Regions from separate parts of the Homo sapiens genome. Here all the other regions are linked to region 2. The links come from fine-mapping of genetic effects on gene expression. A gene starts in region 2. Each other region holds a variant in brackets. All regions are shown on one strand. Distances are from middle to middle.

Region 1 (5,231 bases), 170 kb after region 2:
AGAAGATCATGTATCTTGAAAGTAACAGAGATAGAACTGAAATGACATTTGCTGAGACATAATATAGTAAAGCAGAAAAAAACATAGATTTTTGAGTAAGACATACTTGAGTTTAAATCCTGATTTTGCCACTTACTGATGGTATTGACCGTGAATAAATTAATCTCTCAGGTCCTAAGATTCCTCATCTGTAAAATGGGTCAAATAATATTTCCCTTGCTGGGGGTAATTTTAAGGATTCTAAATAATGTATATAAAGCAACCAGCATTGTGCCTGGTCAGAGTAGGTCCTCAGCACATGGAAGCTATTATTATTCTGTCTCCTGGTCCTGTGCTCTTTCCAGTCTACCAAGATGTCTACTACTGTAGATATAGAAGGTACAAGGGATTGGCCTTACCTGTCTTCAGCCCATCAAATGCTAGAAGTCTTTTCATTAGCCTCAAGGGTGGGGTTGGGGGGGTTGTTTTATCCCTTTCTAATAACAGAAGCTGGAGGCAGCTTTTATTGTATAGGTAAAACTTAAATAATTTTATATCAATACCAGAGCTGCTGCAAAGCAATAAAGTAAGTATCACGTATGACTCTTGTTGATAGTAAGTGCCCAGAGTCAGGAAATGCTTTTTGGATTTTAAAAATATGCATAGAATTTGACTAGGAGAACAAGAGATACTTCATGTAGGATCAACGGTGTGGAGGTAAGACAATGTAAGATTTGCTCAGCTTGGCTAGAACAAAAATTGTCATTGGTAGGGGAGCATACATGATAAGGATGGAAAAATAGACTCGTATATAGAGCTTCACATGTGCATGTAAACACACACATGTTACTCACATCTCCTATGCATGTACATTGCCAACCTAAAATACTTAGAATTGATTGGAAGCATTGGGTGAATAGATATTATTTCATCTCTCTATGATTTGTAGAAAAGCAATGTGGTCAGAAGAAAGAGAGCTAGAGTGGGGGTTGGGAGACCCAGATGTTGCTCTTGGTACCGCCCCATTCGACTGTATAATCTGGACAAGACATGGAACCTCTTTGGGCCTTATCTCCTCATTTATAAAAACATCTGTGCCACTTTTGGAAAATCCTTTGGAGCTATTATCAAGAGCCTTGAAGATGTCCATTCACTTTCATTTATTAATTCATATCCTAGCATTCTTCTCTAAGGAAAGATCTTAAATATGGAAAAAAACTTTATGGTTAAAGATGTTCATCATAGTCTTTTTATAATTTAGTAAAATTAGGAGCTACCTAATTTTACTAACATTTGGTAATGGATAAAAGATGACCTATCTGCTTCACTAATTTGTAGTGTTTATTAAGTAAGAATTGCAGCATTGGTCATGTAAAAATGAAAACAAAAAGGCACATATGAAAAATATACTGGGAAATATACTTTCCAGTGTAGGAAGCATTGTTGATGTTATCCACACCCTTCATGATCCAGACCCAGATGTTCACACCAGCTGTCTTTGTGCCACCACTATTTACTGTATATGGTGACCTCACTATGGTGACCTTAGGACATTTTCCTAACAAATACCTTTCATCCCTGTATGCTTTTGTATGTCTGGTTCATTCCTCCTGAAATTCCCTTTACTCCCTTGTCTCGCCATGAATATCTGCTCTTCTTCTAGTCCAGCTCTGCAAATTTCCCTGACTTCCTAGGTGGAATCAGTTGCTCCTTCATCCTTCTTTCTATAAAATTTGTAACTTGGCTCTAACACATATGTCCTCTGTTACAGTCTTCTTGTTTGTTTCCATCTCTGCACATAGACTGGGCCTTCCTTAGGGTCAGAATTGTGTTATCAACAAATCCCTAGGATTCAGCAAAGGGCCTGGCATTTAATAATCACTCAATATATGATTGAATTTTTACTTTTTTATTTTGATTTTTTGCTTTTCCATGTTTTCTGCATATTTTATAATGACTATGCATTGTGCTTATAATGGAAGAAAAATAGTAGTAATTCATTTACTCATTTACTTTAACAAGGTGACTGACCTAGTTCAGAGGTTCTCAAACTTGGCAGTTCATCAGAATCACCTGGAGAGCTTATTAAATTGCAGATACCCTGGCCCCTAGACAGACTTCTTGAGTCCCAGTCTCCCGGATAAGGACCTGGAATCAGTATTATTAACAGGCTACCAGTTATTGGGATGCTCAGCCATGTCTGAGAACCTTTGACCTCAGTACTGCTAAAGCCCTTTCAGCTTAAAATCTTCCTAATTCTTTGATTGGCCTTCTGTCCCTTGCTCCCCCTGCTATGAGAGGCTTTAGCTGGAGGGCATGTGGAGCAACAGGCCATACAATGGAGAATACCTGTACTAGCTTCATTATTGGGCTCCTCTTCTGTGCCAAAGACTGCTTTGTAAATAGCGTTTTAAAATATCTATACAATCATACTTTAAGGTCAGTTTTATTTTCTCCATTTTACAGATGAGAAAACTGAGGCAAAGAGAAGTTGTGACTTTCCCAAGGTCAAATAAGAAAGCATTGGATGCTGTGTTTCAATTCAGTTCTGTCAGACTTCAAAACTGGATCTAGAATTTCCCTCACTGCCCCTCCCTGTCCCCCTTCCCCCCAAATAAAGGAACCCCAGCAGGGTCACGTACAGCCCTGCTGAGTGCAGACACGTTCTGCCGTCTGCTCAGGCATGTGGAATTAGCATCCTTGGGCAGCAATGCACCACATAAGCAGAGGCTTGCAGCTCACCAAATGTGCTCTGGCGCCCACCCACCTGCTTACAGGGTGCAGTGAAGCAGTGGAATTCAATTTGCGGCAGTGACCTAAGAAGAGCTATTTTT[A/G]GTAAGAAAGTAGGTCAGGGGCTGCAGCGGTGCTGCCTGATAAAGGAACAGCCTCCCCTGTCACCAGGAGGCTTGCTCACTTCTCGCACAGCCAGTGTGGAGGTGAGGTGCAGATCTGACATCCTCACATGACTGCAGTTGTAATCATTACTGTGGAGCCACTAGGGGGTAATACACACACACATCTAAGACACAGAGGCTCTTGCCTGGGTTTGCTTAAGGTCTTGGGCCCTAGTCTTCCTCAGGAGATTAGAATCCCTTCAGGAAACACCTCTAACATACTAGGAGGCTCATCTATTATATACCTGCTACATGTCAGCCACCATTCTGGGTTCAATATGCATTCTCTCATTTAATCTTTGCAGTATCTCTGCAAGGTAAGTATTATTATCCCAGTTTTGCTGATGTGGAAATGGAGTTGCAGAGAAATTAAGAGATATACTCAAGATCACAGTGTTCATGTGTCATGGAGCCATTTTTGAATCCTGTGAGAGACTTCAGTGCTGATGATCGGATGACCAGACCATCAAACCATGCTGGAGGTGATTTTTTAATTACCATTCTGCCTCTGCCCCGTTTTGTTCAATACTTCAGAGAAAAAAAAATACAAAGATGGTGTTCTCCATCTGAACTTATCTGAATCAGGACAGGAAAGACCCAGGACACAGACCCTTTCCCCAGAGAGGAGAGAATACATCTCTACATACTGCTGCCCAATCATCAAGCCCAGTAGTTGCCAAAAACAAACCAACCACCTGATTTCCCTGGGCCTGGAGTGTTTCAGAATCCTCTGCCCCACTTGTTCTGCCGTGTATTAACTGCAGAGCTGTGGCAAATTGCAAGGCACTCATTGGCGATACACAGGTGGACATGAGCTTGTTAACAGAATGCAGTAATTGACATACCGTGATTCATTATGCACAGCACGAAGGACTCTAGTAGAAGCCCACTTTATGGCCAAGAGCTGCTGGCACCACCAACCTTGAGAATTTGTTCCTGGCTCTGTTCTGTCTCCCCAGCTAGAGAGCACCATCCCTTTAGGGGCCAGAAGCAGTCTGTGGCTTCAGTCTTATCTGCCCCTACCTCCAGGCAAGGAGTAAGGATACTTCCCTGGTCCCAGGCTGCATGACGTTGGAGGGAGATTATTTGTTCATTCATTCACTCAACAAGCATTTAAAAAAATCTGGCCAGTAATGCAGTGGAGAACAAGACAGATAGTTCCTGCCCTTCCAGAACTTAATCACCTGGTGACTATCAGAACTGCAAATTTCTAAGCACCCAATTCCCAGTTCTATAGACCTGGAAGTGGGCCCTCTCTGGACCTTAGTTTCTTTATCATCAAATGAGTAGAAAAGAGAGAATTGTATTGGTCAATCTCTTTTAGCTCTAAGATTTCAGACTCTGTGGTTATGGATTATAAACATGAGTCACAGTATCAGTCTTAGTCATTTGTATCCAATGCCAAAGGAAAAAAAATGAAAATCTCAAATTTCAGAATCTGGATGGGAAACATGGACACAAGCTAATTCAATTTCTTCACTTACAAATGGGAAAAATGAGGCTAAAAGAAGGGTGTGTCTTGCCTAGTATATCAGTGAACAGAGCCAGGATGGAGAGGCCAGTCAGCTGAGCCCAAGTCTTGAGACACCCCATTCCTACTGAGGCTGCCTCTTCACTCAGCACTGCTGCTGTGCCCCTGTTTGGAACCCTTTCTGCACTTGGCTTTTCTAACAGTGAGCTCTACTGAGTCTTCTACTTACGCCTCTAACCACTGCTTCTGTGTTTCCTTATCAGCCCCAGGGCCGATGGCCTGAGAGTAGAAGAAGGAGTAGGCTTTGATAGCTGAGCCCCCAAAGGTAAATCAAATTTAACTTTGTTATGCTAAGGCTATAAAAAAAAATGGACATGAAGAAGTTGAAGCAGAGCATGTAGAGTTTGCTGACAGAGTTCTCGAACAAGCAGTTACAGAGGCAAACCACAGTGAAACAACAGAAGAAGGGAACCTGGTGGAGATGGCTGCTGAGAAGTTGCTCCATGAACTCAGAGGACCTATAGAAGGGCCTACCTACACTCATTGTCTTAGAGCAGCCTTGCTAACCCACGGGCAGCGAGCTGCATGTGGCCCAGGACAGCTTTGAATGCAGCCCAACACAAATTTGTAAACTTTCTTAAAACAGGGGTTTTTTGTTCTGTTTTTTTTGTTTGTTTGTTTTGTTTTGTTTTTTTTTAAGCTCATTAGCTGTTGTTAGTGTACTTTTTGTGTGGCCCAATTCTTCTTCCAGTGTGGCCCAGGGACGCCAAAAGATTGGACACCTCTGGCGTAGAGCCTCTCTATACCCCTGGCCCATGTCTGTCTTCTACATGTAGCCAATGAAAGGAATCTAAAGCTGGAAGGGCAGGGGACCTTTCTGATGCTCT
Region 2 (5,231 bases):
TCTCTCTCTCTCTCTCTCTCTCTCTCTCTCTCTCTCACACACACACACACACACACACACTCTCTCTCTCTCTCTCTCTTTCTCATTTCAATATTTAAAAAGGCTAGTCCTGTGGAAAAACTTTGATAAAACAAACTTTAAGGTTGAAGCTTTTTTCCTCCTCCAGAACTGAGAAAGGAGTGGGTGTGCTTAGTTTCTTAATTTCCTTGTCTCTTGTTACTCAGTGGATGCCTGGGACTCCTCCAGGGTTGGGGAGATGTAGAGGGGAGGAGAGGTAAGGAGGAGAAAAGTTCTTTTTGGTCTGATACTGTTGTGAATTGTCATCAGTGCTTTCTGTACTTTGTAAATATTACATGCTGACATTTTCTTGTGGGCATTTTGGAAGACCTTCCCACCTTCTTATTTCTTGGGATTTCTTGATGTAGGTAAATGTATCTCTCTGGGCTGTTAAATTCATTTCCCTCACCCTCAAGGAATCTAGTGATCGACTGTCCTGTGGGTGTCACTTCACCCTTCCAGAAATTCTCTTGGACAAGGTCTAAGACCATCCCCCAGCCAGTTTGCTCAGGTATGGGAAATACTCACATGGGAAATGGACAGTTTTTATTTTGAAAAACTGTGGGTGTGAAAGACCTCCCCAAAGCATCAGTTTGTCTTTGCTCAGCTATTAGAGCAGATATCCAGCCACAAGCCCTTGTATTTCTCAGAACGGATTGGACAGAAGCCTGTCTGGGTCCTAAATCTAGAGGGATGCATACCAAGCTCTCTCAGGGACCCAGGTAAAGTAACTTTCCTTAGACCTGAGATGGGTTGAGACCCACACCACATTGATAATTGTGGCCACATATCCTACTAGAATTCTCTCTGGCCTCTCAACCTTTTTCGTAGACTGAAAGTCATACACTGGTTTCTAGACAGTTGCTTTGCAAGACCTGCTTTGGTGGTCTTGAACCTTACTTTATGATATAGGAGTAACTGGCACTTGTTGCTCAGCCAAAACTGAGCGGTGAAGGATCCCATTTTTACATCCTGTTACACATGCTTCAAAGAAATGGTCAGCACAAAAAAGCCCACTCATAAGACAGTCAGTAAGCATGGTATAGCTCCTGCACATTCAGATCCCTAGAGAATGAAGAGCTGTTTTATCTCTCCAAAGTTTGCTTTTTTCTTGGTATGGTCATCGACGTTCTCCAGATGCCACAGGTTGGAGAGATAAAGGTGAGGGGCTGCCCTCAAGTGGTCTTACAGGCAGAAACTCCTAAAAGTGGATGGAGTGAAAGAACAGGAAAGGACAGTGTAAGAGCTCATTGGAGACACTTCCCAGAAGCCCAGGGGTGAAGGGCAGTGAGTGCTGGAGGCCCGTGTCAGCAGAGGGGCCAAGTGCTACCGAATGTGAATGTGGATGATCATCTTTAATGTGACCCTATGTGTTCTGTATTCCCGGTACGCGGTGCCATATTTTCCTTCAGATAAATTGAACTTAATTAACTCCCATCAGCAACACGACGCTGTCTGAGAAAAGCCATTTTATATGGAAATGTTCGTTGGGTGACGATTATCCAGTATTATTAATAGAATGAGCTCAGGGCCGTGCCCGGAGCGCCGAGGCTGCCCCGGCAGGAGTCGACGCTAACCAGCCTCCCCCATTCAGCGTCGCGAGGCGCGGGTTCCCGCTCCGTGCCAGGTGCAGAGGGCGACACCGGCGACGTGCCACTCCACTCGCCTCCCAAGGCGCCCCCTCAGATGTTTGCGAACGCACACCAAAGCGGGCTCAAGACAATTGCGCCTGAGACGCCGGGCAGGACCCTGCCCTACCCCTCAGGCTCCATTTCCTGTTCCCGCAAATGGTGATGCCATCGCTGCCCTGTCAGCCCCTCTGGGCTGTCGTGGGCCTCCAAGGAGACAAAAACGCGAAGGAGCTTTGTGAACTGTGGCGCGCAGTGCACCTGCATGAAACATGAAATTATGACTAAAAATAAAGAGTACGAGGGGGTAGGAGCGAGAGGCTGAGAGGCCCAGCGAGACAGGAGGCTGCGGGCGGAGACGCTGCGAGCGCCGCCGGGGCGGGCTGACTGGGAGGCGGCTCCGGGGCTGTCGTCCGGCCCCGCCCACCACTGATCCCCAGTGGCCCGAGGGCCCGGCCGCACCCTCTCTCCCGGCCTGCGGGCCGCTTCCCACCACAGACCCCGCCCCGCGCCCTACCCATCACGCGTCCCCGGTCCGGCTCCGGCGCTCACCTACCCCCGGCAGGCGCCGCCCCCGTGCCGTCCCTCCCGGAAGCGCCGGCGGAGCGTCCTCGCATGGAGCGCGAGCCCAGCGCCTCGGAGGCCGCCCCCGCGGCGGCCGCGCTCTTCGCCTGGGTACGTGACTCCGCCCCCGGGCCGGTGCAGGCCCTGAGGGGCGCCGAGATGTGGGAGCTGCTGGCCGCGGCGTGGGCAGTTCAGGGGCTGGGCGGCTGAGGTCCGAGCCGGGCTCTGGGTTGAAGGATCCTGGGCTGGGAGCGGAGGGGGAGCGGAGGAGGAGCGGGCGGGCGGGGAAGGAAGGGTCTTCGCGGTCGACTTAGGGGCCTGCCGGCTGGCGGGGTCAGGGCCGGAGGGGCTGTGGCGCCGCGGGAAGAACCTGCCTCGGGGCAGAGCGTCTGGTTCCGCGAGAGCCCTCCAGCCCGAATAGCGCCTGGAAGACAGCGCGGAGGGCTCGGTGGAGAGGATCGCCCGGTCCCAGAGCTCCGTGGGGCCACCTGTGCCCCCCACACTCCTGATGCCTGGAGGAGGGAGACCCTGTCCCAGCCTGGCGAAAGCATCCTTTAGATGTGAGGCCTGCGGTGTTTGGCCGCGCACAAGGCACAGACCCTGCCTATTTGCTGACACTCTGCTGTGACCGGTTCTTGCATGTGTTGGGGGAGTTGGGCTGCTGTTGGTTTGACGGGAGCATTGGGAGAGACAGGGTCATCTTGATGTGTGTCTGGGAGAGAGGAGGGTTCATGCACAGGAGCGTGGCAGGTGGCCGACCAGCATGCACGGGAACAAGCAGTCGCTGCGTCTTGTGCTTCTTCATAGCACGTATCACAATTGTAATGATGTGTATAATTTATTATTAACGTCAGTCTCTCTGGCTGGAAAGTAAGTGTGGTAAGAGTGGGTGCTGTGCCTGTCTTGTTCACGGTGCCTCTCTTGGTGTCTGGCACATTGTAGGTCCCCAGTAAATACTCGTTGACGAATGAATGAACGAGCATCTGTGTGCCTACCCATGTGCTGGTGTTGGGGAAATACACATGAGTGAAATACACGAGTGAAGGACTTCCAGCTCTTGTGTTGGGGGAGAGCAAAATTATAACCTGTATTGCTGTTAAAATCAGTATTAGTTGTCCAATTTTTAAAGAAGTAATGATCAGTACAAGGCGGCAATTGTTGAATGTGGGGCTGCAATTTGGCAGGAGGGAGAGCATGGCGTGACCTGCGGTAGTCTGGCTGGCTGGGCGTCTTTGAGGTGGCCCGGGAGCTGGGGGTGGAGTTGGGGATTGAATGTGTGCTGTCTCTGGCTTTTTCCAGGCAGGAGACTGGCGTCTGTGTGGACAGAGGAAACAGAAATATTGTTTCAGTACAGACAAAGCCGAATATTAAAGGTTGTAAAATATGTTTAATAGGTTGTTGACACCCTTCTGCTGTGTTTGGAGGACTGGTAGTGTGTTTTTCCTGCTGTATAATCTGAAACTGTGGGGGTGTGTTGGTCGGCTAGGGCTACCATAACAAAATACCACACAACAGAGGCTTAAACAACAGAAATTTATTTTCTCACAGTTCCAGAGGCTAGAAGGCCAAGATCAAGGTGTGAGTAGGTTTGGTTTCTCCCGAGGCCTCTCTCTGGCTTGCAGATGGCCGCCTTCTCACTGTGTCCTCACATGGCTTTTTTCACTGTGTCCTCACATGGCCTTTTCTGTGTGCGTGAGCATCCGTGGTGTCTCTTCTTTTAAGGACACCAGTCATATTGGATTAGGGCCCCACCCTTATGACCTCATTTAACCTTAATTGCCCCTTTAAAGGCCTTCTTTCCAAATACAGTAAGGTACTAAAGGTTAGGGCTTCAACACGTGAATTTTGGGGGAATAAAGTTCGGTTCACAGGAAGGGGATTTACCTTGTTAGGGGTGTGTGTGTGTGTGTGTGTGTGTGTGTGTATGTGTGCATGTGCACGTGTGATATGTCTGGAGTGTTTGTGAGGAAGAAAGGCAAACAACAGTTGTAATAGGTTGTGTTAAATTTCCCTTCGTCTTGCTTTATCCTGGATTTAGGGCCTCTCACAGTGTTACAAAAATTGGTACCGTAATTTGAACCTCAGAGTGCCCATGTGTCATGTTACTTTTCTCCCAGGTGTTCAGCAGCCTTGCACCCCTGGTAATGGGACAGCCACGGAGATCTCAGGGCTGACCAAGAAATCCTGTGCATATATGCTCTATATTCCCCTTCATGCTGAGCAAGTCTTTCATAGGGTCTTACATTCATTCGCCATATAAATATATGTACATCTTCTTTGGGCCAGCACAGTTTCAGATGCAGGGGAAACAGCAGTGAGCAAAGCAGAGTTCCTGCCCTCCTGGAGTTTAGTTTCTGGCAGGGGTGGTGTACAGTAAACAAGTAGTCATATATAATGTAACATCAAGAAGTGGCATGAAGAAAAATAAAGCAGAAAATGAGTGATATGGGGATGCTCTTTTAGATAAAGTCATACAGTTAACCACCTGTCAGGTAAGCTCTGGGCTGCTTCACTGTATGTCCTTTTTTTATTTTTTCTAAGAGACACAGTAAGGTATAGTAAAAGGTGCAGGGCATCAGACTTTTTGCCTACCCAGATATAACTATGGAAAGTTACTTAACCTCTCTGAGCCTTAGTTTCTTCCTCTGTGAAATGGGAGTAATAATGTCCTTCTTAGTTGTTGTGAGGATTAAAGGTGAATGCACAGTATGGAGAGAAGCACTCAGTAATTGGTAGCTAATATTGCCCCCTGTGGGCTTCTGGGACTTATGCCCCTGCTATGGCTTACTCTTCCATCTTTGAGTCCTTGCAGCCCAGGATGGCTGTGAAATAGACTACAAGGGGAAGGATTATGTATGTATGTATGTAAGTATGTATATATGTATTTGTTGTAATTATTTTACATCACCTTTCCTCATTCAGGTGTCTTCAAAAACAAACATATTTAAAAGATTTTACTTCTCATCTCCAGGAAGAACCAGC
Region 3 (5,229 bases), 72 kb before region 2:
AGAAAAAGGCAAGTACAGTTTCCCAGGCTCATACTGTTTTTCATTTCATTTATTTCTCCCTTTTAAAAAATGCTTTCATTTCCCTAATTATAAAAACATTACATGCTAAACTTCAAAAATTTATTTTATTATCATATTTATTTATTTTATTTTTTATTGATTTTTATTTTTTGGAAACAGAGTCTTGCTGTGTTGCACAGGCTGGAGTGCAGTGGTACAATCTTGGCTCAGTGTAACCTCTGCCTCCTGGGTTCAAGTGATTCTCGTGCCTCAGCCTCCCAAGTACCTGGGATTACAGGCGCACACCACTATGCCCAGCTAATTTTTGTATTTTTTCAGTAGAGACGGGTTTTTACCGTGTTGGCCAGGCTGGGCTCGAACTCCCGACCTCAGGTGATCCACCCACCTCGGCCTCCCAAAGTGCTGGGATTACAGGCGTGAGCCACCCCACCTGGCCTGTTTACTTATTTTAAAGCCAGAGTCTTATTTTGTTGCCCAGGCTGTAGTGCAGTGGCAGGATCATAGCTCACTGCAACCTTGAATTCCTGGGCTCAGGTGATTGTCTCACCTCAGCCTCCTGAGTAGCTGGGACTACAGGCACATGACGCCACACCTGGCTAGTTTTTAAATATTTATAGAGACAGGGTCTCACAATCTTGCCCAGGCTTGTCACAAACTCCTGGGCTCAAATGACCTTCCTGCCTTGCCTTCCAGAGTGCTGGGATTACAGGCATGAGCCACTGCACCCTGCCGAAAAATTTATAAAAAATATCAAGGAAACATGATGTTTGTAATCTTACCATCCCACACATGCACATATATTTAATTCTGCTTTTTAGCCAACATTTCATTTAGAAATATAAAATGAATATTTTCCTATATAAACACATATTCTTTCACAGAATTGTTTTTATGACCACAATTAAATTCATGATTCATTTAGAATTTATTCTCGTGTCACATGTGAAGTGTGGCTTTAATTTTTTTTCCCCCTTTGATAACTTTGGTTCTAGTGGTATCAGTTTTTTCCCAGAGGGCTACCCAGTTATCTCAACATCATTTAGTGAATAATCCAGCTTACCCACACTGATTTGAAATTTCATCATTATTTTTAAAATTCCCCTATATATTCTGTTCAGTTCCATTGCTGTATTCATATATTAGTAGCCATAGTGTTTTTAAATATTAAGGTTTTATGTTTTAATACCTAATAAGGCAAATTCCTCTTCATTCTAAGTTTTCAGAATGTTTTTAACTATTTTTATCACTAACTTTGAGTTCCAAAAACAAAAAATTTCTGACATTTTTGTTGACATCGTGTTAACTTGATAGGATATGTTATGCCCTTTTATTTGTTCAGGTCTTTTTTGTGTCCCTCAGTAATGGTTTCTTCATATGGATCTTGGATATTTCTTATTAGTTTCATTCCTAGATAATTGTATCTTTTGGGTTTACTATTGTCTGTGACATATTTTCTTCCACTGATTATTATTGTTGGAATATATGAAGGCTATTGATTTTGGTATATTAACTTTGTATCCTGTAACCTTACCAAATTCTTAATATTTTTAGTAGTCGTTCCAGTAATAATCTTTGGGCTTTATCTGATAGTGCTTTGGCTTAAGTTAGATATATTTTATCACTTGTCTATCTCTGGTTTATTCTTCTTGTCTTTCTGGGTTGCCTAGAGTCTCTGGTGTAAAATAATAGTGATGGTAGAAAACATCCTTACCTTCTTCCTGATTTTAGTAGGAATAATCCTAGAGTTCCATTGTTAAGCATTATTGGGTATAAGATATATGTTTTACAGCCAGGTGCTGTGGCTCACACCTATAATCCCAGCACTTTGGGAGGCTGAGGCGGGCAGATTACCTGAGGTCAGGAGTTCAAAGTCAGTCTGGCTAACATGGTGAAACCCTGTCTCTGCTAAAAATACAAAAATTAGCCAGGCTTGGTGACGCATGCCTGTAATCTCAGTTACTCAGAAGGCTGAGGCAGGAGAGTTGCTCGAACCTGGGAGGCAGAGGCTGCAGTGAGCTGAAATCACGCCATTGTACTCCAGCCTGGGCAGCAGAGCAATACTCCGCACCCCCCCTCCAAAAACAGATATATGTCTTACCATTTAAGGAAATATTAATCTGTTTCTATTTTATTAAGAGTTTTTAATAAAAAAGGAATGTTGAATATTTTTAAGATCTTCATTTGTAGATACGTTACCTCATTGAGAAGGTGGCATTGAGTACAGTCCTTAGGGACAGAATGGAGGGAGTCATGTGCATACTTGGGGAGAAGAACATTCCAGACAGAGGGAATGGAAAGTGTAAAAGCCTTCAACCAGAAGTATGCCTGGTGTCTTTGAGGAGGAACAGTGAGATCCCATATGGCTGGGGTGGATTTAGCAAAGTAGCACATGGAGCCAGAGAGGTAGAGTATGGAGGGCCTGATGTTGCCTTTTCCTCTGAATGAGGTGGGGAACCATGGTGGGTTTTAAGCAGAAGTTGCCTACGCATGAGCTGGCTTTAATAGGCTGCTGTTTTGATGAGAAATAT[G/A]GGGAGTCATGGGTACAAAAGGGACATGAGTTAGGAGGCTTTTAGAGATTCTTCATAATTGACTCATAGCAAGAAATGTTATAACTTGGACCAAGATGGTAACAGTGGTAGTGGTAGAAAAATCCTGTGAGCTAATTTTTTTGTACTTTTTGTAAAGACACGGTTTCACCATATTGCTCAGGCTGGTCTCGAACTCCTGGGCTCAAGCTACCCGCCCATCTTGGCCTCTCAAACTGCTCAGATTACAAGCGTGAGCTACCACCCCTGACCTCCTAGGGTATTTTAATTGCTGATGCTTCATTGCTTTAGTTCTCAACTCAATGTTACCTTGTCAGAGAGCTAGCCCTGCTAGGCTGCTATATTATATTCCTCTTTTATTTCCTTCATAGAACTTAACCAAAACCTGAAATAGTCTGTTTTATTTACTTATTTGAAAGTATAAAAATGTAAGCCTCTTATGGGCTGACATCTTGCTGATGTTACCAGTGTATCTGTAATACCCAAAATAATAATGTCTAGCACTAATTCAATACATATGAATGAAAAACCAAACTTAACTGGCCAATTCCATGCTTCTTGATTTGTTTATACAGTAGATCTTCCTCTAATTGACAGCCTCATTCGGGTCTTACAAAATATGGAACAGTGTCAGAAAAAACCAGAGAACTCGGCAGAGTCTAACACAGAGGAAACTAAAAGGACTGATTTAACCCAAGATGATTTCCACTTGAAAATCTTAAAGGATATTTTATGTGAATTTCTTTCTAATATTTTTCAGGCATTAACAAAGGTAGGAAAGAAGTATTGATGATGTCATAAGCAAAAGAAAGTGTGGGTTGCTTAACGCTTCAAACTTTATTTTTTTTTAAATATGAAAGTAATATATAATTTGGGAAAATAAAGTAAAATCTTAATATCACCATGAGTTTATAATCTTAAAAACAACTAGCTGATGTGGTTTGGTATATTTACGTGTGACAGACATATGCCTATGTTTGCATGCATGTGTTTTTATAAATGCATTTTTCATATACTTTAACCCAGCATATGCAATTTTTATAGACTACTGTTTTCCCTTAACACTGTATTATAAACATTTTTCTTGATTCTAGATGAAAGACTTTTTTACTGAGAGCCAGTTTAAACCTAATTTACCAAATAATCAGTTTTCAAAATTTACTGCAAACTTCTTTTAAGGAACATTCTCCCTGAATATGTTCAATGGTTATTAATATTCTTCTTTTGACCATGTTTTTTCTATCCATATATTTGGAAAGAAATGTATTATGAATATGTTATGAATATATTGTATTATGAATATAAAATGTTATAAATATAGCTGTGAAGAATATATTTATTCATACCCACTTAATTTTTTAAAGAGTATTCCTTAAGAAGTTTCTCTTGGCCAGGCGCCTATAATCCCAGCACTTGGGAGGCTGAGGCAGGTGGATCACTTGAGCCCAGGAGTTTGAGACCAGTTTGGGCAACATGGCAAAACCTCATCTCTACAAAAAATACAAAAATTAGCTGGGCATGGTGGCACACGCCTGTGATCCTAGCTACTTGGGAGGCAAAGATGGAAGGATTGCTTGAGCCCAGGAGGTCGAGGCTGCAGTGAGCCCAGACTGTGCCACTACACTCCAACCTGAGCGACAGAGTGAGACCCTATCTCAAAAAACAAAATGAAACAAAAAGTTTCTCTTATTCTGGTGATTTTTTTTTTATTAGTTGTCTTGCTTCCCTTTTCCATATTTGTATTTTCCAGATTTGGGGTTATTACCTTAGCAGGTTTTATATAATTTAAATTACTGGATTCAACATTATAAATGTGAAGATGGCTAAGTCATGATGGCCATATTTTGTCAAAATGCTATTTATATGTGAAAATGTTGGTTTTACTTGACGCTTATTATTGGGTATTATAATTTTTATGTCAAAGTTCAGGTAATAAATTGTGTCTTACTTTGATTTGCATTTTTAAATTAATGAGATTGAAATATTTGGATGTCGTATGTTAATTTGTTTCCTACCTTTTAATAATTTATCCATTTTGATTATTTGTATGAATTTCTTGGGTAATAATGTATCTTTTCCATATTTATCGCATGTATTTTTTTCCCATTCTTTGCTGTTGTTTCTGTTTTTTGGAGCAAGGGACATCGATATTTCTTAACTTTTAAGTGGTGGGAACATCAAAGAAAGGTGGGCTGAGAATACACGAGTGCTATGTCATGCAAATTCTTATGTCATATTTAGGGGATTTAGACTTCATCTTGAAAAAGCTGAGGAACTACTAAAGATTTTTTACTTTTAAGCACCAAGTGATACGATCAGTTTAGAAAGATTACTCCAAAAGCAATAGAGAGGAAGGAGTAGAGAGAGTTGAGGCTGGAGGGCAGGAGATCAACTAACAGGCTCTTGTGGTTGGTAATCTTCAAGAATAATCTGAAAAATGATGGCAGCCTAAACAATGGAAGTTTGAATGGAGAGGAGGGATGGGGGTAAGAGAGATTTGGTAGAATAGAATTGAGCACTTGCCGGGAGGAGTCAGCAGGAGGGGAGAAGGAAAAGTCTTGGCTGTGTTCCAAGTTTGTAGTCTGTGTAGCAGGGTGGATGGTGGTGCCCTTCACTAAAGTAAAGACGACAGTGGAGAACATGTTTGGGTTACATAAGCCTC

Evidence for each region. PIP is the estimated chance that this variant, and not a neighbour inherited with it, causes the effect.
Region 1: its variant is fine-mapped to the expression of SERGEF in whole blood (TOPMed, PIP 0.94).
Region 3: its variant is fine-mapped to the expression of SERGEF in whole blood (TOPMed, PIP 0.97).

The regions. Positions count from the first base shown.
Region 1 is chr11:17,844,709-17,849,939 of GRCh38, reverse strand. The region is part of intron 10 of SERGEF (secretion regulating guanine nucleotide exchange factor); the gene reads left to right. It overlaps LOC124902642 (a long non-coding RNA gene), which reads left to right. Exons shown (of 2, transcript XR_007062610.1): 2 at 1-2,637. LOC107984317 (a long non-coding RNA gene) reads right to left here and starts at 2,565. Exons shown (of 2, transcript XR_001748144.2): 1 at 1-2,565. The variant A/G (reference allele first, on the strand shown) is at 2,814.
Region 2 is chr11:18,010,080-18,015,310 of GRCh38, reverse strand. It overlaps SERGEF (secretion regulating guanine nucleotide exchange factor), which reads left to right and starts at 2,264. Exons shown (of 11, transcript NM_012139.4): 1 at 2,264-2,360. The coding sequence starts at 2,301. RefSeq lists enhancers at 1,547-1,596, 2,955-3,471, 3,472-3,989 and silencers at 1,977-2,596, 4,948-5,007.
Region 3 is chr11:18,081,645-18,086,873 of GRCh38, reverse strand. It overlaps SAAL1 (serum amyloid A like 1), which reads left to right. Exons shown (of 12, transcript NM_138421.3): 9 at 1-8; 10 at 3,143-3,339. Among named protein-coding and RNA genes, the nearest start is that of SAAL1, 22 kb to the left of the region's middle. The variant G/A (reference allele first, on the strand shown) is at 2,550.